Homo sapiens: one gene and its partners. The protein of the gene in region 5 purifies or fractionates together with the protein of the main gene of each other region. This does not show direct contact. Each region holds a gene or a part of one and is shown on either strand. Other genes may lie near its edges.

Evidence for each region.
Region 1: the proteins of CCR9 (region 5) and ALG10B purify together in Homo sapiens (co-immunoprecipitation; one large-scale study listed by IntAct). This does not show direct contact.
Region 2: the proteins of CCR9 (region 5) and TMEM87A purify together in Homo sapiens (co-immunoprecipitation; one large-scale study listed by IntAct). This does not show direct contact.
Region 3: the proteins of CCR9 (region 5) and TTYH3 purify together in Homo sapiens (co-immunoprecipitation; one large-scale study listed by IntAct). This does not show direct contact.
Region 4: the proteins of CCR9 (region 5) and BRI3 purify together in Homo sapiens (co-immunoprecipitation; one large-scale study listed by IntAct). This does not show direct contact.
Region 6: the proteins of CCR9 (region 5) and CLPTM1 purify together in Homo sapiens (co-immunoprecipitation; one large-scale study listed by IntAct). This does not show direct contact.
Region 7: the proteins of CCR9 (region 5) and PIGG purify together in Homo sapiens (co-immunoprecipitation; one large-scale study listed by IntAct). This does not show direct contact.

Annotation. Positions count from the first base shown.
Region 1 is NC_000012.12:38,322,953-38,327,077, reverse strand, and holds part of ALG10B (dol-P-Glc:Glc(2)Man(9)GlcNAc(2)-PP-Dol alpha-1,2-glucosyltransferase), read right to left. Parts: 3' UTR 3,166-4,125; coding exon of another isoform or gene 3,154-3,165; 3' UTR 1-3,153. UniProt on the Homo sapiens protein: Dol-P-Glc:Glc(2)Man(9)GlcNAc(2)-PP-Dol alpha-1,2-glucosyltransferase that operates in the biosynthetic pathway of dolichol-linked oligosaccharides, the glycan precursors employed in protein asparagine (N)-glycosylation.
Region 2 is NC_000015.10:42,211,947-42,214,814, forward strand, and holds part of TMEM87A (transmembrane protein 87A isoform 1 precursor), read right to left. Parts: intron 1-2,868. UniProt on the Homo sapiens protein: Potential monoatomic ion channel gated by mechanical force, implicated in normal touch sensitivity through the generation of mechanically activated currents.
Region 3 is NC_000007.14:2,641,807-2,645,931, reverse strand, and holds part of TTYH3 (protein tweety homolog 3), read right to left. Parts: intron 1-4,125. UniProt on the Homo sapiens protein: Calcium-independent, swelling-dependent volume-regulated anion channel (VRAC-swell) which plays a pivotal role in the process of regulatory volume decrease (RVD) in the brain through the efflux of anions like chloride and organic osmolytes like glutamate.
Region 4 is NC_000007.14:98,279,939-98,284,793, reverse strand, and holds the start of BRI3 (membrane protein BRI3), read right to left. Parts: upstream 3,109-4,855; 5' UTR 2,999-3,108; coding exon 2,857-2,998; coding exon of another isoform or gene 2,817-2,856; intron 2,444-2,816; coding exon 2,341-2,443; intron 1-2,340. UniProt on the Homo sapiens protein: Participates in tumor necrosis factor-alpha (TNF)-induced cell death. May be a target of Wnt/beta-catenin signaling in the liver.
Region 5 is NC_000003.12:45,892,886-45,897,010, forward strand, and holds part of CCR9 (C-C chemokine receptor type 9), read left to right. Parts: intron 1-1,331; exon of another isoform or gene 1,332-1,416; intron 1,417-2,020; 5' UTR 2,021-2,048; coding exon 2,049-2,069; intron 2,070-4,125.
Region 6 is NC_000019.10:44,986,009-44,990,133, reverse strand, and holds part of CLPTM1 (putative lipid scramblase CLPTM1), read right to left. Parts: intron 3,680-4,125; coding exon 3,559-3,679; intron 2,956-3,558; coding exon 2,711-2,955; intron 2,055-2,710; coding exon 1,961-2,054; intron 1-1,960. UniProt on the Homo sapiens protein: Involved in GABAergic but not glutamatergic transmission. Binds and traps GABAA receptors in the endoplasmic reticulum (ER).
Region 7 is NC_000004.12:516,210-520,334, reverse strand, and holds part of PIGG (GPI ethanolamine phosphate transferase 2, catalytic subunit), read right to left. Parts: intron 3,997-4,125; exon of another isoform or gene 3,899-3,996; coding exon of another isoform or gene 3,859-3,898; intron 1-3,858.

The DNA of each region.
Region 1 (4,125 bases), on a different chromosome or scaffold from region 5:
AATTTGTATATATAAATACGTATATATTTGTATATATAAATATATATATATGTATTTTCTTTTCCTTGTTAGAAAAATACTGTATTGTCTTTTGGTCTGATGGTGATAGGCTGAGATAAAATTTAATTAACATTAAATTCATCAAAAATTTATCTCTTAAAAAAGCACAATATAGAGATATTATATTGTGACAGAATTTCTTACCCTAGAAATAATTTTTCAAATCTCAAATATTAAATATTAGTGTTGACTCATGGATATATGTTAAAAATATGTCCTCAATCTCTATTTTTATTATAATTTTCTCAGTTACACAAGTTTTTGTATATTGGAAACGTCAGTTGTCAACATTAAATACATAAAAATGCCCTATATAAAAAATAATTAACAGCTATTCCTAGAGTGGTAAAATGTAGCCCAACTAAAAAAAACAAAGTATTTGTAATTAGTTGAAATGTCTTTTACCTTTAAATTCTTTAACCTGTTATTCGTTGAAGGTTACTGATTTTTCTTATTTTAAATAGAAATAAGAATATTTTCTTATTTTAAATAAAAAGCAATTATTTTGAAATTATACCCTTAATAGGGTATAAAGTTTCTTTAATAAGAAACTTTCCTTTAAAGTGTTATAACCTTTTAATGGTTGAAAGTTATTTGTTTTTCTTATTTTAAATAAACAGTAATTATGTTGAAATCATATCCTATCAAAGAAACAACATGTTTACAAGTAAATACATGTATAAGCATTAAATGCTAGCAGGGGTCTCCAATCTTTTGGCTTCCCTGGGCCACACTGGAAGAACCATCTTGGGCCACACATAAAATACACGAACACTAATGATAGCTGATGAGCTAAAAAATAAAATAAAATAAAATAAAATAATAAATAAAATAAAATAAAATAAAATCACAAAATATCTCATCATGTTTTAAGAAAGCTTACAAAATTTGTGTTGGGGCCGCATTCAAAGCCATCCTGGGCTGCATGTGGCCTGTGGGTTGAACAAGCTTGCACTAAGGCAAATAAAAATTGTTAACACTGGGTCAGAAAATTACACAGAAAAATGTTTAGGATGACTCTTATTATGAAACATGATTTACTTCCTAAAATTAGCCACGGTTATGTAGGATGTTTTTTCTATTCACTTCACTCTATACTAAAAACTTCATTCAGTATATATTTACTCAATATTTATCATATGACATACTTATAAATATTATGAGTATATGGCAGGAATGAATCCTTTTTAAAATAAGGTTATACACATACCAATCAGACACTGACTAGAGTTAGGACAAATACTATTCTCATTTGAAATGAGGACTAAAGACTAAACCACTTGCCTTATTGATCCCAGAGCCACAACCAAATATAAAAATCTTAACTCCCATGTTAAATGTTTTTTTCTACAAGCCCACAGTTCCTAAGTCATATTTCAATTTCCATTTAAAAATTTTCAAATTTATATCACAATTCTTACTTGCTTCACTTTTTAATGAAATTCCAATTACTTCAAAGATAATAAACGCTTGCTAACCTAATAAACACAAAATTTATTTCTTCATGTGAATAAATATTTTATTTAAAAGTGAGTCCAAAATAACAGTCCACTATTTAGGTGGTATAAATAAAAATGGTAGATCCCTTCCTCTCTCCTCTCTTCCAACAATTCTAAGGAAAATAATATCAAGCCAAGTGGCAATTAAGTTCAAACTAGAAATACATTTCATTAAGCTACGTATTTATTAGAAATAAATTACATTAGGCTATTTACACAAGTTATTTTATGACTGGCTATGCACATTTCAGAAATAACTCTAAGAAGACAAAGAAAAGGCCAGACAGCTAAAATAATTTATCTTGCCAAAATGAGATGCTAAGTTTAAACTGAGAGATGCTATCTTTCCAAATCATTTAAATACATAGACGCAGTTCAAAAGATTCCTGACTATCCATTAATGGAAAACATAAACGTTAACAAAATTCACAGCATACCTGAATCTTACTCATGCTACCTAAAGATAACATATCTCTAGAATTTCACAGAAGATAGAATCAGTTCAAAATGATGTATTACTGAACCTATAATGATTTATGGACTAGATATTTTTATGACACTTTTCAAAATAGACATACTCACAGACTTTAGTAATGGTAACTGTAGGGCTCCAGATGCCCTCGAGCAGGGCAATATTTTTTTCATAATCACCTAATTTTAATCAATTCAGCTAAGTCTAATGTTTAAAAATTCATGAAAAAATATCTATCTACTCAATAACTTTTGAAAACACAAATATAACTAAGAATGTTTCTAAAAGCAAGGATCTAAACACCTAAGAATGGTCTTCTCAGTTGTTTCAAGTGAATGACTTTGAGTTTAGTATCATTTCTTGAACGACTAAAGGCAAAATGATCTGTTGTGCCAAGTTCTTACATAATCATTTTATCTGTTATCTATTTTGGAAAATTCACCAGCAAATGGCCATCTTTGAACTGCCTAGAAAATTTAACGAAGACATTTATCTTAAATTCGAAAGTATTGATAAGCATTCCTGTTTTAAAATAATAAATAGTTGAAAATAGCACCTTTTAATACATGGCATTCTTTTCTTAAAATGCCAAGTACTATATTTTATGTATTTTATAAAAAATGTGGAAGATTAACCTGTTTCTCTCTGAATGTAGATTTTCACCAAAACATCTCTTAAACAGCAGGGACTCAACACTTAAAAATGAACTAGAAGAGCTGGGCACAGTGGCTCACGCCTGTAATCCCAGCACTTTGGGAGGCGAGGCAGGTGGATTACCTGAGGTCAGGAGTTCGAGACCAGCCTGGCTAACACGGTGAAACCCCGGCTCTACTAAAAATAGAAAAAATTAGCCAGGCTTGGTGGTGGGCGCCTATAATCTCAGCTACTCGGGAGGCTGAGGCAGGAGAACTGCTTGAACCCAGGAGGTGGAGGTTTCAGTGAGCCAAGATCGCGCCATTGCATTCCAGCCTGGGGGACAAGAGCGAGACTTCTCCTCAAAGACAAAAACAAACAAAAAAAGATATAGAACAGTGATCCCTCCAAAGAGCAGTCTTCTTTAATTACAGGGTAGAATATTTTCCTCAATTTTGCCAGACTAGATCAGAGTGGAAGCTTCTCCTCTCAGAAGTATTCCTAAATACAAAATCCTTGCATTAATATTATCAGACAAAAAGTTACTTTCCCTAAATTACACATTCTTTTTTCAATTTTGACTTCCCAGATTTAGTTCTCCACTATAGTAAATTAATGACAAAAGTATAATTTCTTTGAGTGTCCTCTCTCATCTAATTTTTAAGAAGTCTGGGTAAAACACGTTTTTCTACAATCACTGTTATAACTAATGCCGATCTATTTTCTGAGTACTAGAGTACAACCAAAAAATGGCCTGCATTTATTACTCAAATTATACTTGTAATTTTCACCTGCACACAATTTTATATTTGTAAATGTAGACTCATCACTTAAAACTCAGAGAAGCAAAATTTGACATTGAGGGGAAAGTAATTTGTTCACTTATAGCTACTTTTAAAGTTTAGAAACATAAAATTATGTTAAAAGATGAGTTCTATTCACAATTCTAAGTTTACATGTCAAAGTTAACATGCCCAAATAATACTTTCCTGTAATGGAATGACAACCCAAAAAATACACTCAAAATAATAAACACAAAATTCAAAAAGTAACACAAAATAATCCTACCCCAGCAGTTGTTCCCTAATCTACAAAGTCAGACCAAAGGATTTCTCAACTTTCTTTCAATTCTGACTTTTTTTAATAGATAATGGAATCAAACACTAGTCACCTTTAGCTTTATATTACCTAAGAAGTCACTTATTTTTTAACCTCTCAGTAAAGATACTGAGAGTTATTTAAAAGGTATCAGCTAAGATATTATCTCCTGATCCAACAATCCCACTTCTGGCTATTTATCCAGAAGATTTGAAATCCGTATGTCAAAGAGAAGTCTGCACTCTATGTTCATTGCAGACAAGTCACAATAACCAAGTGATTCGATCAACCTAAGTGTCCATCCATGGATGAATGGATAAAGAAAATGTGGCATATATATACAAAAAAATACTATTCAGCCTT
Region 2 (2,868 bases), on a different chromosome or scaffold from region 5:
AAAGCTCTAGGCTTCTGGACAGAAAATCAGCACTCAGAAGGAAATGTATAGAGTCAGCTAAGATCTTATGTAAACAAATATTTACATAAGATTAGGCTTTAATAAAAATGTGTAACTCCTCTAATTCAGGAATTTCACTTGAAGACCCAGTGAAGGATGAGGGCAAAGACGTGCACCTAGTTAGCACTTTGCACTTTAGAATGGTTAGGAGGGTTGATTTGTTATGTGTTTTTTACTACACTTTTTAAAAATCATGTAAAAAATAAAATTACATTTAATTTAATATAGTATTTACAGTATCCCATTTCAATTAAAATAATTAATGTACTACCCTTAAATTTCCCTTCTTAGGCAATTTTATACCTTAGAGTTAATTTTCATTTTTCTTTTGCTTCATTTGCGAAGTACCTCTCACTATTGTATCACAAACTGACAGAACTACAAATCCTTTTTGAATATAATCAATCACATCAGATAATCTATAGATGTTTCCCTTTTTCTTAAAAATATCCTTTCCGATGCTCTCTGTTCTCCACTCCATCCAAGCCTGGTGCCCAGCTGCCAACCTGAGAATTTCTTACATCATACTGGGAATTTTTCTTGTCTCTGTGTTGGACCCTTTATTTCCTAGATCCCAAGTCTTTTTCCTAGCTTCCTCATTTTTGTGGAGAACATTTTCCCCTACTTTCTTCAGAAACTGCATATAGAACATCAATTATTTTACTTCTTGTGTGACTAGAAACATCTTTATTTTACCCTCATAATGATAGTTTAGTTGAGTACAGAATTCTAGGTTGAAAATGATTTTCCTCAGAATTCAAAGGCTTTGTTCTGGCTCCCAAAGATGTTGTTGAAGAGCCTTATGCCATTTTGATTCCTGGTCCATCATGTAAATTGTTTCTCCTGTAATTCATTTAAGGTCTTTTTCAGTTTTAAGGGAAAAAAAGGCCTTGGAGAAAGTGATGTCAGCAAGATGACAGAATAGGAAGCCCTGGACACTCCTTCCCTCTACAGACACACTGATTCAATAACACATGGAAAAATTCCCTTTGTGGGAAATCCAGAAACCAGTTGAGGGTCTTCTGCACTATAGGAAAGCATGAAACCAGCTGAATCAAAGTCGGCAGAAAAACCTGAGGCACCCTCTTGCCATAATTCTTCCCTTCCCATGGACCCAGCACAGTACCACATGATAGAGAGGAAACCCTCAGCTCCCAGCTTCTTTTTGCAGAGGGAAGGAAATGACTGGAATGTACATCCAACATTCTGACTTTTCTGGAACCTGCACGAGAGACTGTTTTCTGTCTTGCCTGAGTCCGAGAGCTAAAAACAAAGGGCCCAGGTTGGAAGTTGCTGAAATCAAAGTGGAAGTTTGGACTAGCAAGCATGAGCTCACTACAGCCGCTCCCCCAGCTCAGTGCAGAGTAAGCAGGTAGAATCCCCAACATCCCCAAATCCTAGCTTTTCCCTAGGGAGGAGAGATGGACTGTGAAAATGTTCCAACTTTGTAAGAGGTTACCTGAGGGAATGGTTTCTGTAGGGAATGGTTTGAAGCACAGATGGGACCAGTATATTTTAGGTGCCTGGGGCCAGTATGAACAAAAAAAGAGCTGGGCTATGCCACTGGCTCCAGGAGACCCATGATACAGCAGATAAACACAAAAGGGAGCAAGAGATTATAAATTCCTGGGGAGGGAAAAACCCAGCAAATCCCTCTGATTGGGAATACATATGCAGAAGTCCAGAAAAGACATAATACAGAGTGGGTTAGAGAGGCTATCAGAATGATTGATGAGGGTGTTCTCCTGTACAATGCCAGTCCATGAACACTGGAAAGGTAACTGTTTTTTTTTCTAATGCAATGAAACCAACACAAAGAATTAAGGAAAATAGAGAATCAGTGAAACATGGCCCAAACAAAGGAAGAAGATAAATCTCTGGAAACCAACCCCAGTGAAACAGAGGTATAGGAATTATTTGAAAGAGAATGCAAAACAACTATCATGAAGATGTTCAACGAACTCAGGAGAACAATGCATGAACAAAGTAAGAATTTCAATAAAAATATACAAAACATTTTTAAAAATATGCCAAGAAACTGGATAACCTAGAACAAAATATATAATTCCTAGAAGTATACAATCTACCAAGACTGAATCATCAAGGAATAGAAAATCCGGGGGGGGAACACACAACCTGGTAAGACCTACAACAAGATTCCATCAGTAATCAAAAACATCCCAACAAAAAAACAGCCCAGGACCAGATGGCTTCTTTAGTTGAGTCCTACCAGGTACTTAAAGACAAAGTAACACTAATCCTTCTTAAACGCTTTCAAAAAAATTAAAGACGAAAACATTTATTTGGAAGGAACTTCCAAACTTATTCTATGAGGCCAGCATTACCCTAATGCCAAAGCCAAAGACATGACAAGAAGAGAAACGACAGGCCAATATCCCTGATGAGCAGACGCAAAAATCTTCAATGAAACAATGGAAAACAGAATTTAACGGCACGTTGAAAGAATCACATACTATGACCAAGTGGAACAAAATAGAAAGCCCAGAAATAAAACTACACATACATGGTCAACTGATCTTCGAAAAGAGAGACAACACTACACAGTGGGGAAACTGACAGTTTCCTCAACAAATGGTGCTGGAAAAACTAGATATTCACATGAGAAAGAATGAAAGTAACTCATCTTCACTATACACAAAAATCAACTCAAAATAGATTAAAGACTTAGACAAGTCAAAATAGATTAAAGAATTAGACATAAGATTTGAAACCACAAAACTCCTAGAAGACAACCTAAGTTTCTTGAAATTGGTCTTAGCAGTGATTTCTTGTCTAAGACACCAAAAG
Region 3 (4,125 bases), on a different chromosome or scaffold from region 5:
AGGACCCCAGAGCCCGTCCCCGTCTCAGGCCCAGAACTCTCCTACCTGAGTCCTGGCAGGATCCCCCACCCCAGCTGTAGTCCTGAGGTTTTCAGGTCTGGTAGGGAAATTGGGAGCCTGTGGGGGACTGAACCCCCTCTTGCTGACCATGAAAGTGTTTCTGAGGGGTGAACATGGAAGAGGCCCCATCAGGAGTCTGATCCTGTCTGGGGTCTGTGCACCGAGAAGCTGCACTCAGGGGTGGGCACCGTCCATGGCGTGCCCCCACGCTGGATGAGATGGTGGGGCTGGCCCCACACTGCTACAGGCTGCATACAGGCGCCCCATCGGACACACAGCCCTGTCTGGCTCCAAGCACGGCCTTCCAGTGTGGCTCTCCCCAGGTCTCTGAACACAAAAGACAGACCACAGAACAGACACCAGAGCTCCCCTGTCCCGAGGCCAGGCGACCCCCACAGGAAGTGGCTAATTTGATGCAACAGTGACATTTCCTCAGCACCCGCTGCGGGGAGGGAGGGTAACGTGGCCCCAGAGCTGTCCCTTCTCCTGGCACTGCATTCGATCTGCCTGGCCGAGTGCTCTCACCCCATTTCATCCACAGGGAAACTGGGCTTCATAGAAGCTACAGAGAAAGCACACAGGCCCTGCAACCCCAGGTCCCTGGATTCAGCATAGCCCTGCCCCCGGCTCAGCCCTCCAGAACCTCCACACACTTCCTGTGCCGGGGGAGGGATGGGGAGCTGATACAGGGCTGCGCCTCATCATGGGGCCAGGGACCACCTAGAGGCTAACTTGGGGGTGCCCTGGGGGGTGTCAGCAGCTGGGGCCCTCAGTGTTGTGGGGTGGCCACCAGGCACACCTGCGCTGCCCTCATTGGCACTACTGCAGAGAAACGCCTCTCTCCCCACATCTCAATGCTTCAGCAGTGTGGCCCTCTTGGGACCCCAGCCTTGGGAGCTGCTGGGGCAGATGGTCCCCTGCCTGGCCCCCCCTTGGGATGAGAGGCTCAGCCACAGTGGGCAATGGGATTGCTGCTGGATCTCCCAGGAGACGGTTGCCAGGCAGTGGGAGGATGCCGTGTCCTGCCCTCCAGGAAGCCGGCCGACGTCCACACCCGAAGGCGGCCTTTCCACCTCCACCCAGCCAGGGAGGTGCTGACCAGCCCGGCACACCCAGAAATGAGCCGCCATGGTCCAAAGCCACACCGGTGTGTCCACGGCTGCCCAGCAGCCAGCAATCTGGGCACTGCAGAGCATCAGGGGCGGGCACCCTCCCACTCCTTCAGCCATGCACAAGTGCCTACCGCCCCTGCAATGGCAGGAGGACTGCTGGGCCCTGCACCCCCACCCTCCAGGGGCAGGACCCAGGGCTGGCACCAGAGCCACTGAAACTGAATCAGCTCAGGGCGGTCTCATGGTCCCAGGGAGCTCATGTCACAGAGGGGTCCTCAGGGCCCAGTAGGGCTTACCCAAGATCACACAGGGAGGCGGAGACAGTCCAGTCACTTGGCAGGGCCTCATATTAACAGTCCCAGCACGGTACCCATGCTCTGTGCTCAGTGGGTTGTCTATAAACGTTAGGGAGCTTGGAAAAGCCACGCTCTGGGGCTCCCTGGGTCTGCCCTTGCCTGTGTGGGGCTGGGAATGGAGTGGAGGTGCTGACCCCACCGGCTGTGACTGCAGGCCCTGCCAGTACCCTCCTTATAGCTCAGAGGCCAACGGCAGAACAGACCTGTAGGGGCAGCTGACCATGCCCCCCGGGACCAGAGCTCCACAGGACCCATGCCCACGTCTGCACTTCCATCCACAGGGCCTCCCCTGGGCTCCCATGGCCTGGGGGCCATGTCAACCAGCCGCATCTTGGCCCCGGGCTGGTCAGACTCCTCCAGCGAGCCCTCCCTCTGCTCTCCACTTGCAGAGGCCTCCCCAGTCCCTGGCTGGAGTCACCCTCGCTCCCCCGACCCTGTGCTCCGGTGGGACATGACTCTAGGAGGGCCTGTCTGTACTGCACCCCACATCTGGGACTCACAGCCTCGCAGGGAAACTCCTCCTGGGGTGAGGAGCTGGGGACTGGAAGAGCAGGTCAATCCCAGACACGCATTACGCAGAGCCTAAACAGGTGTGACCTCCGCAGCCACCGGCCTGGCATGTCCACCCAGAGCTCGGGGCATCAGCGTACATCAAAGGGCTTCCAGGTCCAGATCACTTCCTCAGCGGCGCCAGAGCCACCCACTCCCACTTGCCAGATGAGAAAACGGAGGCAGAGCGAGATAAGCCCTGGCCAAACAGGATCTGGGCGAGGCAAGCCCGTCCCTCAGATGGCACTGCCCTGGTGCAGAGGGCTGATGCCCAGGGGCAGTGGGCAGGGGACGCCCATGCCCGGTGGGGAGAGGCTGCTAAGCACCAGGCACCCTTGCCCTTGGCGCCGCCTGCAGGGTGGTGAGGGAACACAGGCACTCAGCATCATCGTAAGTGAACTGTGAAGCCTGCTGGATGGTGAGAGACGCTGAGAAAAACAGAAAAGGCAGCACAGGAGCTGGAGTACCGGGGACTCTACGATTTTTTTTTTTTTTTTTTTGAGACAGAGTCTCGCTCTGTCGCCCAGGCTGGAGTGCAGTGGCGCCATCTCAGCTCACTGCAAGCTCCGCCTCCCGGGTTCACGCCATTCTCCTGCCTCAGCCTCCCAAGTAGCTGGGACTACAGGCACCCGCCACCAAGCCTGGCTAATTTTTTGTATTTTTAATAGAGACAGGGTTTCACTGTGTTAGCCAGGATGCTCTCGATTTCCTGACCTCATGATCTGCCCGCCTCGGCCTCCCAAAGTGCTGGGATTACAGGCGTGAACCACCGTGCCCAGCCTTTTCTTTTTGAGATGTAATTTCACTGGTGATGCCCAAGCTGGAGTGCAGTGGTGTGATCTCGACTCACTGAAACCTCCGCCTCCCAGGTTCAAGCCATTCTCCTGCCTCAGCCTCCCAAGTAGCTGGGATTACAGGTACCCGCCACCAATGCCTGGCTAATTTTGTATTTTCAGTAGAGATGGGTTTTCACCATGTTGGCCAGGCTGGTCTCAAACTCCTGACCTCAGGTGATCTGCCCGCCTTAGCTTCCCAAAGTGCTGGGATTACAGACGTGAGCCACCACACCCAGCCCAAGTCTACGATTTAAAAAAAAAAAAAAAAAAGAAAAGAAAAAAATTATTTTAGAGACAGGGTCTTGCTCTGTGGCCCAGGCTGGAGTGCAGTGGCACGATCACCACTCACTGAAGCCTCAACCTCCTGGGCTTAAGTGATCCTCCTGCCTCAGCCTCTCAAGTAGCTTGGACCACAGGCACATATCACCACGCCTGGCTAATTTTCTTTTTCTTTCTTTCTTTTTTTTTTTTTTTTTTTTTTGAGACAGAGTCTCTGTCACTGAGGCTGGAGTGCAGTGGCATGATCTCGGCTCACTGCAACCTCCACCTCTCAGGTTCAAGTGATTCTCCTACCTTAGCCTCCTGAGTAGCTGGGACTAGAGGCATGCACCAACACACTTGGCTAATTTTTGTATTTTTAGTAGAGACGGGGAGTTCACCACGTTGGCCAGCCTGGTCTTGAACTCCTGACCTTAGGTGATCTGCCATCTCGGTCCCCCAAAGTGCTGGGATTACAGGCATGAGTCACTGTGCTTGGCCTCTGCCCTAATTTTTAAAAAAATTTTTTGTAAAGACAGGGTCTGGCTATGTTGCCCAGGCTGGTCTTGAACTTCTGGGCTCAAGCAATCCACCTGCCTCGGCCTCCCAAAGTGCTGGATTACAGGTGTGAGCACCGCGATTGGCTGAGGCAGCTTTCTCTTGTTCTTGCCTGGATGGGGCCAGCTGCAAACGGAGCCTCGCTCCTCAGCCCCTGGGGGCCAGAGGCCAGGCTTCGGGGCCCCTGCCAGGACAGCCTCACTTGGCTTCCCCCAACTGAGGAAGGAGATGGCGCCTCCCTCAAAGGGAGCCCACTTGGGCTGCCCGGGTCCCAGCCCACCACTGCGAGCATGCAGAGCCTGGGTGTCAGGGTGCTCAGCAAACCGGGCAGCTGCTTCATCCCACGTCAGAGCCCCGGCACCCAACGCGCCAGGCCTGAGCCCAGCTGTCTGCGGG
Region 4 (4,855 bases), on a different chromosome or scaffold from region 5:
ATGCTTCCTCATAAACGGCTAGAAAGGGAAGATGGAGTCAGGCAGCTTCAGCGAAGGCCTGGCCAGGGCAGCAGAGCCACAAGGGACACGGGCTTCTCTGGCCAAGCCTCACTCAGAAGGACTAACAGATGTGTGACTTGGGCAAATTCCTGCCATGCCACCAGGCAGGGAGGGGGACAGAGCCCGGCGGGCTGGACCTGGGGCAGGAGGAAGTGTGGTCATGTGAGTGGTATCCTGTCTCCCGGGCCAAGACGCCAGGCAGCGGCCAGACGTGTGTGTTGTGTGTTCAGGGAACCGTCTCCACTCTCCTCGCAGAGAGGAGTGGCCCAGGGACCACACACCCCACCCACGCCAGCAGCAGAGCACCCAGCCCCCTGCTCGCCCTCTGGCTGCCACAGGGCACAGGGGCCCATCCCATGCCCAATGCAGCTGCAGAGGCAAAGCCTCGGGGAGCCAGAGCCACTCTCCAGCATCCAAGGCACCACGGGCAGAGCGCAGGGACGTGTGTGCTGGGAGGGCCTGGCTGCAACCCAAGGGGTCGCCGCAGGATCCAAGAGTGCTCTGGTCCCAACTTAAAGGACTAAGGACCCCCCAACCTTGTCCAGAGAGGACCCAGCCTCCACCCTGCCTGGTGCAGCTGCCCAGAGGCAGAGAGCAGTGATTAAGTAACCAAGGACCCCACACCCCTACAGCCTCTGAGGGCCGAGCCCAAGATCCTTCCCAGCAGAGCACAGTCTGACCCCGCTCCAGGTTCTGCATAACTGGAGAGCACCTCCAGGTTAGCGGAAGCCATGGGCCTCCGCAGGGACACAGTTCCCACCTAGGGAAGGGGAAGTGGCAGGGCCAGTGCCCCCATACCGACAGCAACTGCGCCACCACCTCGGCGCCCCCCAGCCCTGGGATATCTGGCCCATCCCTCGCTGCCGCTGGTCTCTCACCTCTCCAAGTTCAGGGGTTTGGGCAGAGAAGAGCTAAGAGCTTCAGAGACACCTCACCAGACACCCCCACGTCCCAGGTGGGGAAACAAGCCCCGCTGTTCCTGGCAGGACCAGGACCGGAACCCGGCTCCTCCGGCAGGCTGGACACCGGGATGGCAGGGCATGGACAATGACACGCAGGCAGACCCTCTGCTCCTCCATGTTCTGAGTCCCCTCCATGTGCCTTCACACTCACACAGCTCTGCCAGCCCCCCAACCCGGTGCAGCTCCGGGAGAGAACTATGTCCCGAAGGCAGCCAGCGCCCCACCCTGCCCTCCCTCCACCTTCACTCCAAAGGCTAATGTTTCTGCTGGGTGGTGACCAACTGTGTCAAACTGACGTCCCAGTTAGGGTTTGTCACGGGGTCCCTGTGCAGGCAAGCAGCCACAACCTGCCCCCGAGGTCCCAGCCTCTTGTCCCCACCTCTAGGTTGCCCTTCCTTCCCAGGAAGTTGCCTGCTAAGGCTCTGAAATCACTCACTTCCCCGTGACTCCACTCTAGGCCTTACACACACACTTTTGAAATCAAGTCTAAGTCCAAACCAGGGTTTCTTAATTCCATCTCAGTGGCTTCAACTTCCTCCTCCGAGACACAGCTGAAAACCCTGTCCCGGCCAACTCTGCCCCTACTTTCTAAGCAATCTGAACACCCCCAGCTGCCAAGGGTTTATATTTAATTAATCCTTATTTAAATGTGAATCCTCAAAACCTCCACAAAACAAGCCTCTAGCTGCACCTCGGGGCCCTATAAAAACCAAAAAGCGTGTGCAGGTCCAATGCGAGGATATGAAAAAAATAACTCCTGCCTCAAAGAAACACGGGGTTTCCATCCTGGTCCAGCTCGTGGAAGAGCGTTTCAAGCCAACTTTGGATAAAGCAGCTCTTACGGCCGTCGCTTCTCCCACTGAGGTCTGTCCTGCTGGTGCACTTACTTCCAAATGCCCCTTCCGGGAAAATGAAACCTTCCACCACCTTCGACGATCAACTGCAGAGTAAACTTGCGGAAAGTGAAGGAAAAAGCAGACACCTGATTCCTTGCAAGTCCCAGAACAAAGACGAAAGGACCACGAGTCCCGTTGTTACCATTTCTACATCCCAATCACTTGGGGTGCAATGCCCCAAGATCTAGGAAAAGGAATCCACCCTTTTGCCCCCACAAAATGTGTTCAGAGCCAAGGGTGAGCGGACCCGCACTCTCCCACACCGCATTCGGGCAGCCTGTCTGTCCCTCCCATAAAGGGCTCTGGTCAAGATCCAAGTCAAGCCGGACCCACTCCCACAAGCAGAGCTGTGAGGTCCTGGGGGTTAGGGCGGGGGTCCTCAGAGCTTCCAGGGCCAGTCCCCAGGCTGCAGACCCACTCACCTGCAGACAGGACAGCCTCCTACGACCACGATAGAGTTGGCAGGATAGCGGGTGACGGTCCGGCTGTGGATGTTGTAGACCCTGGGATGGTGGGTGGGTATCCCTGTGGGCGGGAAAGCAGGTCATTAGGGTGCAGGGAGGAGAAATCGGACCGCCACGGGGACTACTCATCCTGTCCCCTCAACCTCCACCCCGCTAAAAAAGCCCCCGGTCTTTTCCACCCTCGGGACGGCCACCGCGGGCCTGATTCGGCGCTAATCTGCCAACAGCGAGCGCCTCGTGACACAAAGTTCATCTGGGGCAGGGATCCGGCCCCGCCGGGTTACGACGGGCCCGAGGACTAGAGCCCCGGGGGGGAGGCTGGCCCTCGGCGGCGCCGGGTCCCGAAGCCAGCCCGGGGACCTCCAGCTCCAGGAAGGACCCCCGGGCGGGCCCCACCCGCCTCCGGACCCACGTCCCCCGACCGGGCTTGCCACCTCGGAAGCCGCCGGCGGGGAAAGTTGGTTACGGGCCCACCTGTGACGAGGTAGGGGTAGGGCGGCGGCGGGGGCGCGGCGGGGATGGCGCCGTAGCCGTGCGGGCCGCACGCGTAGTCGCCCTGGCCGGCCTCCAGGTTGTAGGCGGGCGGCCGCTCCTGCAGCAGCGGCTTGTGGTCCATGGCGGCCCGGCCGCGCCCGCCGCTCCGGCCCGGCTCGGCTCGGTCGGCCCCGGCGGGGGACGCGGCGGCGGCGGCGGGGACGCGGCGGACCGGGTGGCTCGGGCCCCTCTGAGGCAGACGCGGGGCGGGGCGGGGCGGGCGCGAGCCGCGGGCTTCCCCCGCCCTCCCGGGCCCAGTCACAAGACCGGGGTCACGTGGGCGGCGGGAGGCGGGGCTCGGGGGCGGGGCCGGCGGGGCGTCTTAAAGGGGCCGCGCCCTCCCGAAGCCGCCCCGCCGGCGGCGCCTCTGCACTCCGCCCCGCCCCGCCGCCGCTGCTCTCTAGACCTCCCGTGGCGGGGAGACCCCCCCCCCCGCCCATCCCCCACGACGACCCAGAGACGCCCCATAGGGTCATGACCTTTAGGGCTCGCGGATGCACCCCCACCTCCCCCTACGCCCCGATCTCCCAGGCCGGCCGAGGTCCCCCTACCGGTGGAGGAGGGGGAGGGCGGGGCCTGAGAGGGGGCGGGGCCGGGTGGGTCCCAGGCCGCCCCAACGCCAGCCCTCTGCCCCTATGATCGCCAGCGCTTCCAGCAATACAAAGGGCACACCCGGGTGTGCACCTCAGCTGCGGCCTGCGCGGTGCTCAGCTGCGGCGCATTCCCTCCGTTTGCCTTTTTTTGGACAATTAGGTGATTGACGGGGGTAGTAGCCAGTGCTTACAAATAACTCCCCCGTTTGGGGACAAAACTATAAATACTGGGCACCTGCCGCGTCTCCTCAGTTTCCCTAATCTTCAGGCAGCCCTGCCAGGTGTTTTGCTTACCCCTGGAGGACAACACGGGATCGGGCTCAGAAGGGGGAGGGATTTGGCTGTGGCAGGTGCGGGTCAGAGCCCGTATCTAAACCTGGGTGTTTTCTGGCCTCGGGGACTGCGTCAGGCGCCCTCGTTGAAACATTTCCTCATACAAGGCTTCACGGGTTGGCCAGGACAACTTTAAAACGAACGATTGGAACGTTCAGGATTGCTTGCGTCCTTAGCGCCTCTGCACCTTTTCAGGGGCACCTGTATCCGTTACTGTATTCTGTCTCCAGTTTTCTCACCTGCATTTTGATATCACCTGCACTGTAGCTCTGGGACGACTACAGCTCTTCTCGAACCGCGCCTTTTTAATTTTTAAAAAAAAAATTTGTAGGGGGTGCTGGGGGGGCTCTCTTGCTCTGTCACCCAGGCTGCAGTAGAGTGACACAGTCATTGCTCAATGCAGTCTCGACCTCCTGGGCCCAAGCCATCCTCCCACCTCAGCCTCCTCAGTAGCTGGGGACCACAGGCACACGCCACCATGCCCAGCTAATTTTTAAAAATTTTTGTATGGGATCTTGCTATGTGCCCAGGCCAGTCTCAAACTGCTGGCCTCAACCAATCCTTTTGCATCAGCCTCCCAAAGTGCTGGAATTACAGATGTCAGCCCCTGCACCCGGCCTTATTTTTATTTTTTAATAAGGGATCATCATTCACATGTATATATACACACACATACATATATATATATATATATATATATATATCTTTTTTTTTTTTTTTTTTAACAGAGTCTCACTCTGTGGCCCAGGCTGGAGTGCAGTGATGCAACCCTGGCTCACTGCAACGTCGACCTCCGGGGCTCAAGTGATCCTCCCATCTCAGCTTCCTAAGTAGCTGGGGACTACAGGTGCACGCCACAGTGCCCAGCTAATTTTTTTTTATATTTTGTAGAGATGGGGTGTTGCTATGTTTCCCAGGCTGGTCTCAAACTCCTGGGCTCAAGTGATCCTCCTCACTCAGCCTCACAAGGTGCTGGGATTATAGGCATGAGCCACCAAGCCCACCTGACCATC
Region 5 (4,125 bases):
TGCTGACAGCCGGAGATGACACTGAGAAGTGAAGTGCCAGAAGGTTTTCATCGTACTTTGCTTTTTCCTGCCTTACTTGAACAGCTTTATTGAGGTCCAATTATAATAAACTGCAAATATTAAAATGCAGAATGTAAGTTCTGACGTACATACACCCTTGCGAAGCTCTCACACAACCCAGACAGTGAACATATTTATCCCCCACTGAGGTTTCCTTTGTACCCACCTGCCCTCCTGCCCTCCCACACTCCCCTTCCCTCTCTCTCTCTCTCTTTTTTTTTTTGTTTGAGATGGAGTCTTGCTCTGTCACCCAGGCTGGAGTGCAGTGGTGCAATCTTGGCTCACTGCAACCTCTGCCTCCCAGGTTCAAGTGATCCTCCTGCCTCAGCCTCCTGAGTAGCTGAGACTACAGGCGCACACCACCACACCTGGCTAATTTTTTGTATTTTTATAGAAATGGGGTTTCACCATGTTGGCCAGACTGGTCTCGAACTCCCAACCTCAGGTGATCTACCCACCTTGGCCTCCCAAAGTGCTGGGATTATAGGCGTAAGCCACCATGCCCAGCCACCTCCCCTTCTCTCTCTCTCTATTGCCAGGACATCAGTGATTCTGCTTTCCGTCAGTATAGATTAGTTTGCATTATTTAGAGTTTTATACAAGTGAAATCATACAGTATGAACTCCCTTTGGTCTGGCTACTTGGCATAATTGTTTGGAGACTTGTCCATGTTGCTGTGTGAATCGGTCATTCATTCCCTATTCCATTGGACGGATATTTCACAGTTAACTTATCCATTTACTACTTGATGGACATTTAGGCTGTTAGCAGTTTTTGCCTACCACAGAGTAAAGCTGTAATAAACACTCACATACTAGTCTTTATGGGGACATATACTTACAATTTTCTTGGGTGAATACTTAGGAGTGGGATGACTGGATCACATGGTGAGTGCATGTATAACGTCTTAAGAAACTGCCAGTTTTCCAAAGTGGTTTTACCACACATTATGCATTGGAAACCACTGTACTTTCAGAAAAGCAGGGTGGGGTCATGATGTTGTTATGGAAAGGAAGCCAACAGGTTGGCTTTATAGGATTTATGAAAGAGGCTATTTTTTTCGAGAACCTTGGGGTGTGATGCTGGACAGGTTTCCTTGAAATGTACTCGCTAAGGGTATAAAAGGAAATGCCCCAGCTCAGGCACAGACTTCGTCCTCGAAGGCAGTCAAGCTGTTGTTTCTTTGGTTATGTAGGGGTGGGCTTTAAAGAAATTCAAAACACATGAAAATGACAACTCGAGATTTATTTCAGTCAGTTCCGAGGCCCTGTGCATTAGGGAACTAGAACTCATTTTCTTCAGTACACAAACCTAGGACTTCCTTTTCCTGCTGAAGTCAGGGTAAAGAGGAGAAAGGTGGGTTCTGGGGGCACCGGGTCTTTTAGGGAGGGGCCCCAACCCCAGTGGGCACCACCCAGCCCTCATGTTCTTCTTGCCACCTGGTTACTCAAAGGCCCTTTTCCTGGGGAGTCCAGAGCCCAGGGCATTCTCAAAGCGACCACTGTCCTGTTAGCTTCGGTGAGTCCCTTAGCTGATAGAGCAGGGGGAAGGGGAACCAGTCAGCAAAACAGGACTTGACAGACAAGCTGAATCAAGGGAAAGGGAGCTAATGTAGAAAGGATGAGCTGGGAAAAATGTAACAGCCCACCTGCCATTCCTCATTTGTGGATGGGAGATGTACTAATTATTGTCTAAGTAGAAAGAAAACAAATGCTAGAATCAGGTGACCCTCAGAGTCAAAGAAGTGAATGATAACTTCAAAGGAGAGGTTCATTCATTTCTGTGTGGACTACTCAGATGATTCTGAAATCTAGAATACTATATAGACTCTAACTCCTGCTTGGAATATTTTTTTCAGAAGAATAAGCAGATTTAAAATTTAATCTCCATCTTTTTGGCATTTGGTTGTTACTATTCGTTTACAAGCCAGTCCACTTTTTGATTTTTGTCCCTTTTCCAGGAGCAGGCTTGCATCTGACTGACCCACCATGACACCCACAGACTTCACAGTGAGTACAGCCGTGCTCCTCTGGCTCCTCAAAACACACACTCATCTTCCCTTTTTAGGGGGTGTGGGAAGGATCCACTGTGGGGGAAGGATTTATCTGTGTGGTTTCCCAGGGTAAGATCTCTGCCTGGCAATGCGCATTGCTGGGTAGGTTGTTGTCCAGCACAGAGGGTTTTGCAAATGCAAAGAGGCAGCTATGCTTTGGGGTATGTTGTGGAGACAGAGGAAAATGTGGTGTTATAAACAGCTAAGGATTTTTAACCATCTTTAACTAGGGTGTGCTTAGTTCCATATGCCTGTTCTAAAACTCAGACAAATGAGGCAAAGGGAGAATTCATGTAATTTGCTTTTAAAAAACCCATGGTGGGCACATTAGTTGTATTTCTTGCATAACATTATGTAGACCTTATGAAAACACGTAACAGTATACATTCCCCTGAAAGAGACCAAGAGCTGAGCAAAAATTAGTGAGTCAGTCTGGGCGTGGTAGCTCACGCCTGTAATCCCAGCACTTTGGGAGGCAGAGGCGGGCGGATCACCTGGCCAAGGCCAGGATTTCAAGACCAGCCTGCCCAACATGGCAAAACCCCATCTCTACTAAAAATACAAAAATAGCTAGGTGTGGTGGCATGCGCATGTAATCCCAGCTACGTGGGAGGCTGAGGCACGAGAGTCGCTTGAGCCTGGGAGGTGGAGGTTGCAGTGAGCCAAGATCACGCCATTGCACTCCAGCCTGGGCAACAGAGCGAGACTCTGTCTTAAAAAAAAAAAAAAAAATCAGTGAGTCAAATCATAATCCAGAGAATCTTTTTTTCTTTTACAGCCGAATGTAATTAAGTGTAGAATCAAATTAATTTCCCATGCTTTTGTAACATTCATAAATGCCTTATAAAATTACCTAAGGGCTTTGATTTTGCTCTTCTCCAAGGGAAAGCCTGGGTTTTACATGTAGATAATTGAAATCCAGACTTCCTAGCAGGCGGGCTAACAAACTGCCTCACAGTACATTGTGGGTTTCCATGATCTATGGAGAGTGGTGGTTGAAACAGTTTATCAACTAAATTATTTATGATATGCTAATGATTCATTAGTATTACATATGTATAGTTACCTAATTGCACCTATATCCATAACAACAAAAAAGTAATTAATTTGGTCCTGGTGAAGTAACTATTATTCTGACAAAAAGTAGACTCTTCAGTTTCTCCTGCATTAAATTCACCTTTCAATCCCTGAGGCTGTGGAAACAGAAGTAGATGAAGGCAGCAGAGCCAGGGCTGCTTCTGAGCTTGCCAGTCATTTGCTTTTATCATTTGGGATCTTGGATAATAGCCAACTCTGCAAAGCAGCCCCAGATAAGAAGGAAACTGCACCTCAGTAATGACCTGCTCTTGTCAGAGGAGTCTGGCGCCATCTAAATGGGAAGAAGATGGGACCCCTGTGGCCCTGACTCCCATATTCCATGGAAAGTAGCCGTGGCACCCTGTGGCCACCTTTCTGAGGATGTGCTGGGCCAGTCACCCATGCAGGTGCCCCACATTCCCTCAGCGTCACAGTAAAGGCAGAGTCCTTTTTACAGATGAGGAGACCGAGACTGGGGAAGGTGGTTTGAGGGTTCAAGGTCTCATAGAAATTTGGAGGAATAGCCCTTGAGGGGTGCTGTTGGCAATCATAGCTTTGCTGGGTTCCTCCCTCAGGGTGAATGTCAAAGCACTGAAATCCAGGTCTCAATGTTGGGATTTAATACTTTCTCAAGTGTGGGGCCAAGGTGTCTGCCAGAGTCCCTGCTGATAACAAATTCATTTTTTCCCCACCTCCCTCCTTCTTGTGCCCTCTCTTATTCCATCTCCCCCATTGCCTTGTGCCCATTCTTGGTGCTAAGGCACAATGGAAGCCTTGGCAAGCACAGTCCCTGCCCTTTCTCTGTCCATTCCCCAGAGAGGGGCATCTTGAGCCTGGGTTTGGCTGAGGATTTCCAGAGAACACATGAGCCAGAGAAGGAGGCCCTGGAAAGCTCTGGGACCTTCTTCCTGCTCTGGGTGTTCACAACTGGGACG
Region 6 (4,125 bases), on a different chromosome or scaffold from region 5:
ATGGTGACGGTGACTGGTGCCATGGACAGGGCTCACCACGTGCCAGGTGCTAAGGACTGGTCAGGGAAGCTGCTTCCCTGAGGCCAAACAGCCTGGCATGGCAGAATCTGAAGGGACGCGGGGTCTGTGCCACACCATGGTGCCAGCTCGCCCTCCCTGGGAAGGAAGATCTGTGGCATGCACTTCAAGACCACCTCCTCCAGGCCCCTGCCCTGACACCGGGAAGGAACTGGCTCACAGCCATGCTCAGGAAACTGAAAAGGGCCCTGGGCTCCAGTCTGGAGCTCCTTCCAGTGCTCCGCCTAGATGCTGCCAAGGATCCATGTCAGCATGCTCCTCTCTGAGCCCTGGTCTCACCACGGACACCCCTCTCTTGACCCCGCCCGGCTGAGCATCTAACCGCAGCCACAGGAGGCTGAGCCACCACGTCTGTAGCACAGTGGTGGAGCCAGGTCTGCAGTCCTGCAGAGTCAGGGCCAGCTCTGCACTCAGGGAGTGAGGGCTGTGAATTCTGGTCCATGTGCACCCTACCCCATCCCAGAGCTCCCCCACATCCCAGAGCTCCCCCACATCCCAGAGCTCTGGCACACTCCATAGCCTCACCCCACCCACCCCTGCCCATCAGAATGACCCCTGTCCCAACTGAGAAGAATGGGTCTGGAGACAGGGTTCTGGTGGGTTCTCGTGGGAGCAGTTGGGCCCAAGCCTCTCCTTAGACCAGGGAGGCCACACAGCACTGGTGCCAAGTGAGGCCTGCGCCCCCTGCTGCATGACACTGGGGAGGACAGCCTTCTTGTGCCTCATTTCTCACTGGACCCCAGCCAAGCCAGCTCCTAGGCAGAAGGGTCCCGTCTCCCAGCGACAGCTGGTAGATGGCTGGCTGGGGTCGGCACCAGCTCCTGTGCCCGTATGACACTGCATTCTTCCAGATGGTAGTTCTCAATAATGGCAAGAGCGTCCTTTTTTTTGGAACAGGGTGTCACTCTGTTGCCTAGGATGGAGTTCAGTGGTGTGATCATGGCTCACGGCAGCCTTGACCTTTCAGGCCCAAGCCTCCCGAGTAGCTGAGACCATAGGCACACGCTGCCATGCCCAGCTAATTCTTAAAAAAAATTGTGTAGAAACGAATCTCGCTTTGTTGCCCAGGCTGGTCTCAAACTCCGGGGCTTAGGTGATCCTCCCACCTTGGCCTCCCAAAGTGCTGGGATTACAGGCGAGAGCCACCACCAGGCCGGCAATAGCATCTTAATACCAGGAATACTACTACTCATTCCTCTTGCCGCCTGCGGGAGCTACAGGGCCGCAGGCCACTCCTTCAGACTGGGGTGCTCTGGGCAAGGAAGAAGTGGCCTGCAGGGCCTAGAAGATGAGAGTTGGGGCTGGAACCATCTGCCCCTTAGGAACCGTGTGACTGGGCAAGTGACATCCCTGAGCCTCTGGCTCCCACAGGGCTCAAGGAGCTACTGGGGAGGGTACCCAGGACAGTGCCTGGCATGTGGCTGCTTCTCCTCAAACGCTGGCCATCAGTATGGTCAGCCTTAGAACCTAGGGACCTTTGGGGGACAGTGCTCCTCCTTCCCACTTGGGCAGGCCCCGTCCACTCAGCCCTAAGCGGCCTCCCGCAGCAGGCAGCCTGCCGGGCAGGGTGGCGGGAGCAGCTCCGGGGCTTCCCTGCTCTTGGCTCTGGAGTTCCCCAGCCCTGCTTCCTGGCAGTATTGGCCTGGCCTCTGCCCCACCAGCGGGCCAGCCCCTCCCTCAGCTCCACACCCGGTGGGTGGGAATTTCTGGGTTGGGAGTTTTGGGGCCACTGCCCCTCCCCAGCTCACTAGGCCTCTGGAGAGTGGGGCTGAGAGACCCCAGGCAGGGGGAGGACATGTGGGGAGGGAGGGGAGGAGGAAGGGGGCAGGTCCTGTCCCCCACCCTGCACAGCCTCTCACTAGCCCTGGGGTCCTGTTCCTACCATTCTTGAAGGCCAGGAACTCGAAGACACTGTGAACGATAGACACGATGATGGTGAGCGCCAGCAGGTAGGGGTTGGTCTCCAGCAGGGCCACCTGCAGGGGACACATGTGAGCACAGCCTGTCCCCACCCAGGAGCACCTTCACTAGCTTTTGTCCCGAGGGCTGCCCCTGGGGCCGCCTGTAGAGGGAGGCTGAAGGTGGGCCAGCCAGGAGGAGACTGGGTCAGAGATGGGCAGATGGGGAGAGAGAGGAGGGTGACTCACAAAGACAGAAGAGACGGGGAGATGGCACTAGGGGAAGAGGCAGAGGCCAAGGGAGTGCTGCGGGGAGTGGGTGAAGGGACACTGGGAGCCAGGAGCAGAGACCCAACAGTGACGACAGCCCAGGAGGCAAAGCCGAGCCTCACGCCACAGACACAGGCTGACATTTCAGGACCCAGTGAGATGGCAGAGACACAGAGTTGGAGCCAGGGCCAGGGACACAAGGTCTGGGACAGAAGGAGGAAGGGACAGGTCTGGACCCAAAGGGTCCAACAGAACAGCCTGGGGAGAGGACCCCCAGTCATCTAGGGCTGGAGGGCTGGGTGCCCACTTCCTTTCACTGTGGAGAAGGGACCTGGGAGGTTGTGAAACTGTGGGCAGAGGAGCACCAGGCGGGAGGTCCCACAGCCCAGGCCTGGCACACTTCCTCTTGGCCTCTTGCGCCCAGGAAGGCACCGGGAAGTCCCGCCCACACCGGCCGCACTCACCTTCACCGAGTCCTGCTCCTCATCTGACTGCTCGTACAACTCATCACCCAGGAAGTTCCAGGGCGACTTGGTGCTCTGGGCAGCATAGAGCTGCCAGCGCCAAAGCGAGAGTGGGCAGAAGGAGACGCGGAGCGGCAGGCTGGCCAGGCTCTCGTTGATGGGGTAGTAGTCCTTCTGCAGGTTCCAGTAGTCATTGAAGTAGATGATGGGATAGTAGTCACCGCTCACGGCGTCGAACTTCACATCTGCAGCACGTGGGGCAGGGGCACCATTTGGCCCGGGCAGGAGGCCAGGGTACCCGCAGGCCTCAGATGTCTGGAGAGACCCAACAGGGCCCCTCTACAGAGACTGGAGGACAGGGGACATTTCTAGGCCACACCATGAGGAGCTAAAGGGTGCCTTGACCTCAGCAGAGGGGACTGAGGCAAAGGGCAGGCAGGTCCCCACTGAAGGGGGCAGCTGTGGCTCAGCTCCAGCCCACGGCTGCCCTGTGGGTGACCATGTAACCCAGTTTTATAAAATAAGCCAGAAATTGTGGCTTTTAAGTGATACTGCCTCAATTTCAAAAGCTGGCAAGTGATAAGACATTTTTTGAAAACAGTTTGTGGGCTGGATGGCACTTGATTGCGGACCGATGCTGGCGTGTAGAAGTCAGTCCTGGGGTCCCCAGGGGTGGTGGTGTGGGAGAGGGAGAGGACATGGGAAGGGGATAGGACAGGGTGGGAGCTTGGGAGGGTGGAGCCCTGGAAAGCTCTCTCAGGGGGACAGGGCCAGGAGAAGACAAGGAGATGGACCCCGAGCACCCTCTCAAAGGCTCTGCAGGCAGCTGGCAGGGCTGGGGAGCTTACATTGATCCAGGGGAGGGGGCACACTGCCCTTCACCCACGGCGTGTGGTCGTCCACGATGTTGATGGTGATGTTGGGGTGCCAATGGGAGATCACCTCCACAGGCCCATAGTCCTCAGCCCTCTGAGGCAACATGGGGGGAAGGACCTCAGAGGCAGGTGGAAGTGCTCGGGGACTATCACTCTCTGTACACTTCCTCCCCAGGGTTCCCGAGAAAATCTTAATCTTTGCTTTCTTTTTTTTCTGAGATGGGGTCTCACTATGCTGCCCAAGCTGGTCTCGAATTCTGGGCTCAAGCACGATCCTCCCACCTCGGCCTCCCAAAGTGCTGGGATTAGAGGCGTGAGCCACCATGGACAGCTTCTTTTCTTTCTTTCTTTTTTCTCTTTTTTGGAAGAGATGGGGTCTCACTATGCTGCCTGGGCTGATCTTGAACTTCCGGGCTCAAGTGATCCTTCTGCTTCGGCCTCCCAAAATGCTGGGAAAACAGGCATGAGCCATCTCCCCTGACAACCCTGGCAGCAGAATATCAGCCACCACAGCAACTGCTGGCAGAAGGCTCTCCTCCC
Region 7 (4,125 bases), on a different chromosome or scaffold from region 5:
CCGAGCTGGCTGATGCGTGAGCCTCTGCCGGGACCACACTCACTTGTGATTAGACTGGTCTGCAAAGCAACAACTTCCTTCCTGAGACCCCCTCGGTATTTGACATGAGCTTCCTACTCCAGAAGAGCCATGCCAAGAAGGGTCTCAGCTGTGCCTCTTGGCAGGCTCGCCCCACCCTGTGGCTCTGCATGCCCCAGGCCTGCTATCACAGCAGTGAAAGAGCTGCCACAGGCGCTCAAGCCACTGAGGTCCAGGGTGCTGTGGCACAAGTCCCTGAGCATGAACTCATACGCCTGCAGGCCCGCCCCACTGCTGCCGGCACCAGGTCCCTGAGCGTGAACCCACACGCCTGCAAGCACACCCGACTGCTGCAGGCACCAAGTCCCTAAGCATGAACCCACACGCCTGCAGGCCCACCCCACTGCTGCCGGCACCAGGTCCCTGAGCGTGAACCCACACGCCTGCAGGCCCACCCCACTGCTGCAGGCACCAAGTCCCTAAGCATGAACCCACACGCCTGCAGGCCCACCCCACTGCTGCCGGCACCAGGTCCCTGAGCGTGAACCCACACGCCTGCAGGCCCACCCCACTGCTGCAGGCACCAAGTCCCTAAGCATGAACCCACACGCCTGCAGGCCCACCCCACTGCTGCCGGCACCAGGTGCTCTGCACTAAGTGCCAGTAGCCAGCAACACTAGGCGGCTCGCTCGTTTCACCTCCCTAATGACCCTATGAGGCAGGGATGAGCATCAGAACTGTTATCCAGAGGAGGCAACTGAGACACAGAGGGTGAGTCACGCACCTGGGCCACAGTGCCAGTGGGTAAAAGCTGCAAATGAAACTCAGGCAGTCTGGTTCCAGGGCTGGCATCCTTCATTGCTACACCTACCACCCTGGATGGGGGGACGCCTGTGTCCACACCCCACCGCCTATCAGAGAGTCACAAAGCTATGGGGGTGCACCTGTGCATGCATCGAAACAAATATCCATGGAGCGTGGACGACGTGCCAGGCACTGTGCCAGGCGCTGTGCCAGGGGAGACACAGCATGGCGAGCAAGCAGGTGCAATCCTTGCCTGCTGGGGCTTGGATCCAGTAGGGCTCACAGACACGCACGCACGCACACAAGCGTAATTACAAACTGTGACTGCATTACAGCTGTAATTACAAGTTTCCCAGGAAGGAAAAGTAGAGGGTATCAATGAGGGATTTTTGGTAATGGGGAGGAACTGATTTTGGATTGGGAGTGGGCGCTGGACCAGGAAGGTCTGATGTTTACGCTGAAATGTAAACGGTACCCAGGAATTCGCCAGGCAAAAAACTGCAGGAAGAGCATCAAGCTGATGGGAACAGCATGTGCAAAAGTCCAGAGGTGAGAAAAAGCCGGTCCCACTACACTGAGAGAGCCGGGTGGGCACAAAGCCTCCAACAGACTGGACGCCACCGAGGGACTGCACGGGCCTGGCTGTGGGTTCTAAAACGTATTTCAGTGTCAGAACACATACCCCATTTTGTTTTAGGAAAAAGGATCCCCGACGGTGTAGACAATGGGCCGCCAGGGGGGGTTCCAGACGCTGTGGCTGTGTTTTCAGTCAAGGGAGGCTCCTGCATTCCTTTAACAGGCTGGTTTCCTCTCATATCCACTGTGGTTCCCATCTTCCCCCAGCCACTACTTCTGGAACAGGCAAATAACCCTTCCATTGTTGTTTTGATTTTGTTGGTATCTTTTTTGTTTTGTTTTTTGAGATGGAGTCTCGCTCTGTCACCCAGGCTGGAGTGCAGTGTCGCCATCTCGGCTCACTGCAAGCTCCGCCTCCCGGGTTCACACCATTCTCCTGCCTCAGCCTCCCGAGTAGCTGGGCCTACAGGCGCCTGCCACCATGCCCAACTAATTTTTTGTATTTTTAGTAGAGATGGGGTTTCACTGTGTTAGCCAGGACGGTCTTGATCTCCTGACCTTGTGATCCCCCCGCCTCAGCCTCCCAAAGTGCTGGGATGACAGGCGTGAGCCACCACACCTGGCCAATTTTGTTGGTGTTTTTATCACTCTTAGCGTAGAAAAAAGGACACAGTAACAAAACAAGCAATATGCAAAAGCTACCAAACTCATACTATTTTTTAAAAAACGAAAAGCACAAGTCACTGTTGTCCCTGGTCTTGACTAAAATGGCTCCATGGCCAAAGTCCTCCACCTCACAGGGTGAGAGCTGGTGCTCGGTGGGGCCTCCAGACACTCATCACATCCGGTTCCCAAGCACTCCTTGGCTGGCCAGGTTTGTCTTCCACACGTGACTCTAGGAGGCCGGTTTACATCTCAGCGCAAGCTTGTGGACGTTCACTCTATTTGGTAGTAATAGTATCCCTCTACTTCAAGTAGGGAAATCTGCCAACACCACATTAACTGCTGCCCCCAAATAGGAGTCGACTTCCTCCGGGCTCTCAAAGGAGTCCCAGTATCAAACATGATTCTTGATGAACGCGGCTGCGTCAGAGTCGATTGTCTGAAGACATCCCAGGGAGACAAACGTTCCTCTCCTGGACCCTTCCTGTAGCTGTCTCCTGGCACCTCCCTTGGCCCCACACCTGCCTCAGGCAACTCCACCTCCTACTCCCATTAGAGTCGCAGTGTCTGCTGCCTAGGGCTCTCGCCTGCCTAGTACCAGCCAGGCCTTCCCCCACTCTCCATCTGACGAAGCCACTCATCACCCTCCATGGCCAGATCCAAAGCTCAGTTCTCAATTCCTGATTTTATTCAATACCAACCTTTGACGCAGCTGCCCACTCCATGCTTCCTGAAATTACTTCTTTACATGGCTTCCTGGACACCAACACCCCCACCCACAAGCACCTGCCTTGCAGAACTGTTCCTCCTAAGTCGTGCCCTCCTGAGGAAATTATTACTCTCTTTGCTTTCAGCTGAAAGCCCCGGAGTCGTACCTAACGCCTCTGGTCTGCTCGTACCCAATATCGCAGCACGTGAGCAAATCCTGTCTTCATGACCTTCAGAATCTTTCCAGAATGCAACCACTTCTTCACCACCCTTGCCTGGGCCCTGGCCACCCTCACCTCTCACAGAAGTACAGCCACTGCCTCCTGACTGGTCTCCTCCTACAGCACAAAGCAGAATCCTCCACGAGGGCGCCTGAGACAGCCTTCGAAAATGCAAGTGGGAGACTCTGGCTCTCACCAAACCCTGCAGCAGCTCCCCATTTAACTCAGAATACAAGTGAAAGCCCTTCCAGCGCCCAGTGGCCCTCACCCCTTAATGCCATCTCCTCTGCCCTGCCCTTGCCACTCTGGCCCCTGCTCTGACCATCCCCTGAATGTGCGCCCCATGGAGGACCCTGTCTGCTGCCCCCACAGCCTGTAATGTGCCCTCCCAGATGGCCAGCGGCCAGCCTGCCCCAGTGGCTCCCCCACCCGCTTCACTTCCCACCCCACGCCTGTTTATTCCTTCTTTTTTTTTTTTTTTTTTTTTTTTGAGGCAGAGTCTTGCTCTGTTGCCAGGCTGGAGTGCAGTAGCGCGATCTCAGTTCACTGCAACCTCCACCTCCAGGGTTCAAGCGATTCTCCTGCCTCAGCCTCCTGAGTAGCTGGGATTACAGGTGCCCGCCACCATGCCTGGCTAATTTTTGTATTTTTAGTAGAGACGGGGTTTCACTGTGTTAGTCAGGCTGGTCTTCAATTCCTGACTTCATGATCCGCCTGCCTTGGCCTCCCAAAGTGCTGGGATTACAGGCGTGAGCCACCGCACCCAGCCCTGTTTATTCTTTTCCTAAGGTACTCGTCACCATCGGCCATCGATCACTTCCTTTTCTCTCCTCCCTCTGGAAGGTTCCATGAGGGCAGAGCCTCGTACCTGCTCTGTCTCCAGTGCCTGTTAACAGCCTCTCATTCATAACAAGATCCTGGTAAATAGTTGTTGAATGAATAAATTTATGAAAGAACTTTAGATAACTGCATCTGAGGGTGCTGCCAATGGTGATAGTTCAAAGTTCTAAGAAAACAGAAACACAATCTGTATCATCAAAGAGTAGTGATGAAAAAATACTCCTGTGACAAACTGCATACCACAGAAACACATCGGAGAAACCCGAGCTCAGTGGAAACACACAGCTCTGACAGA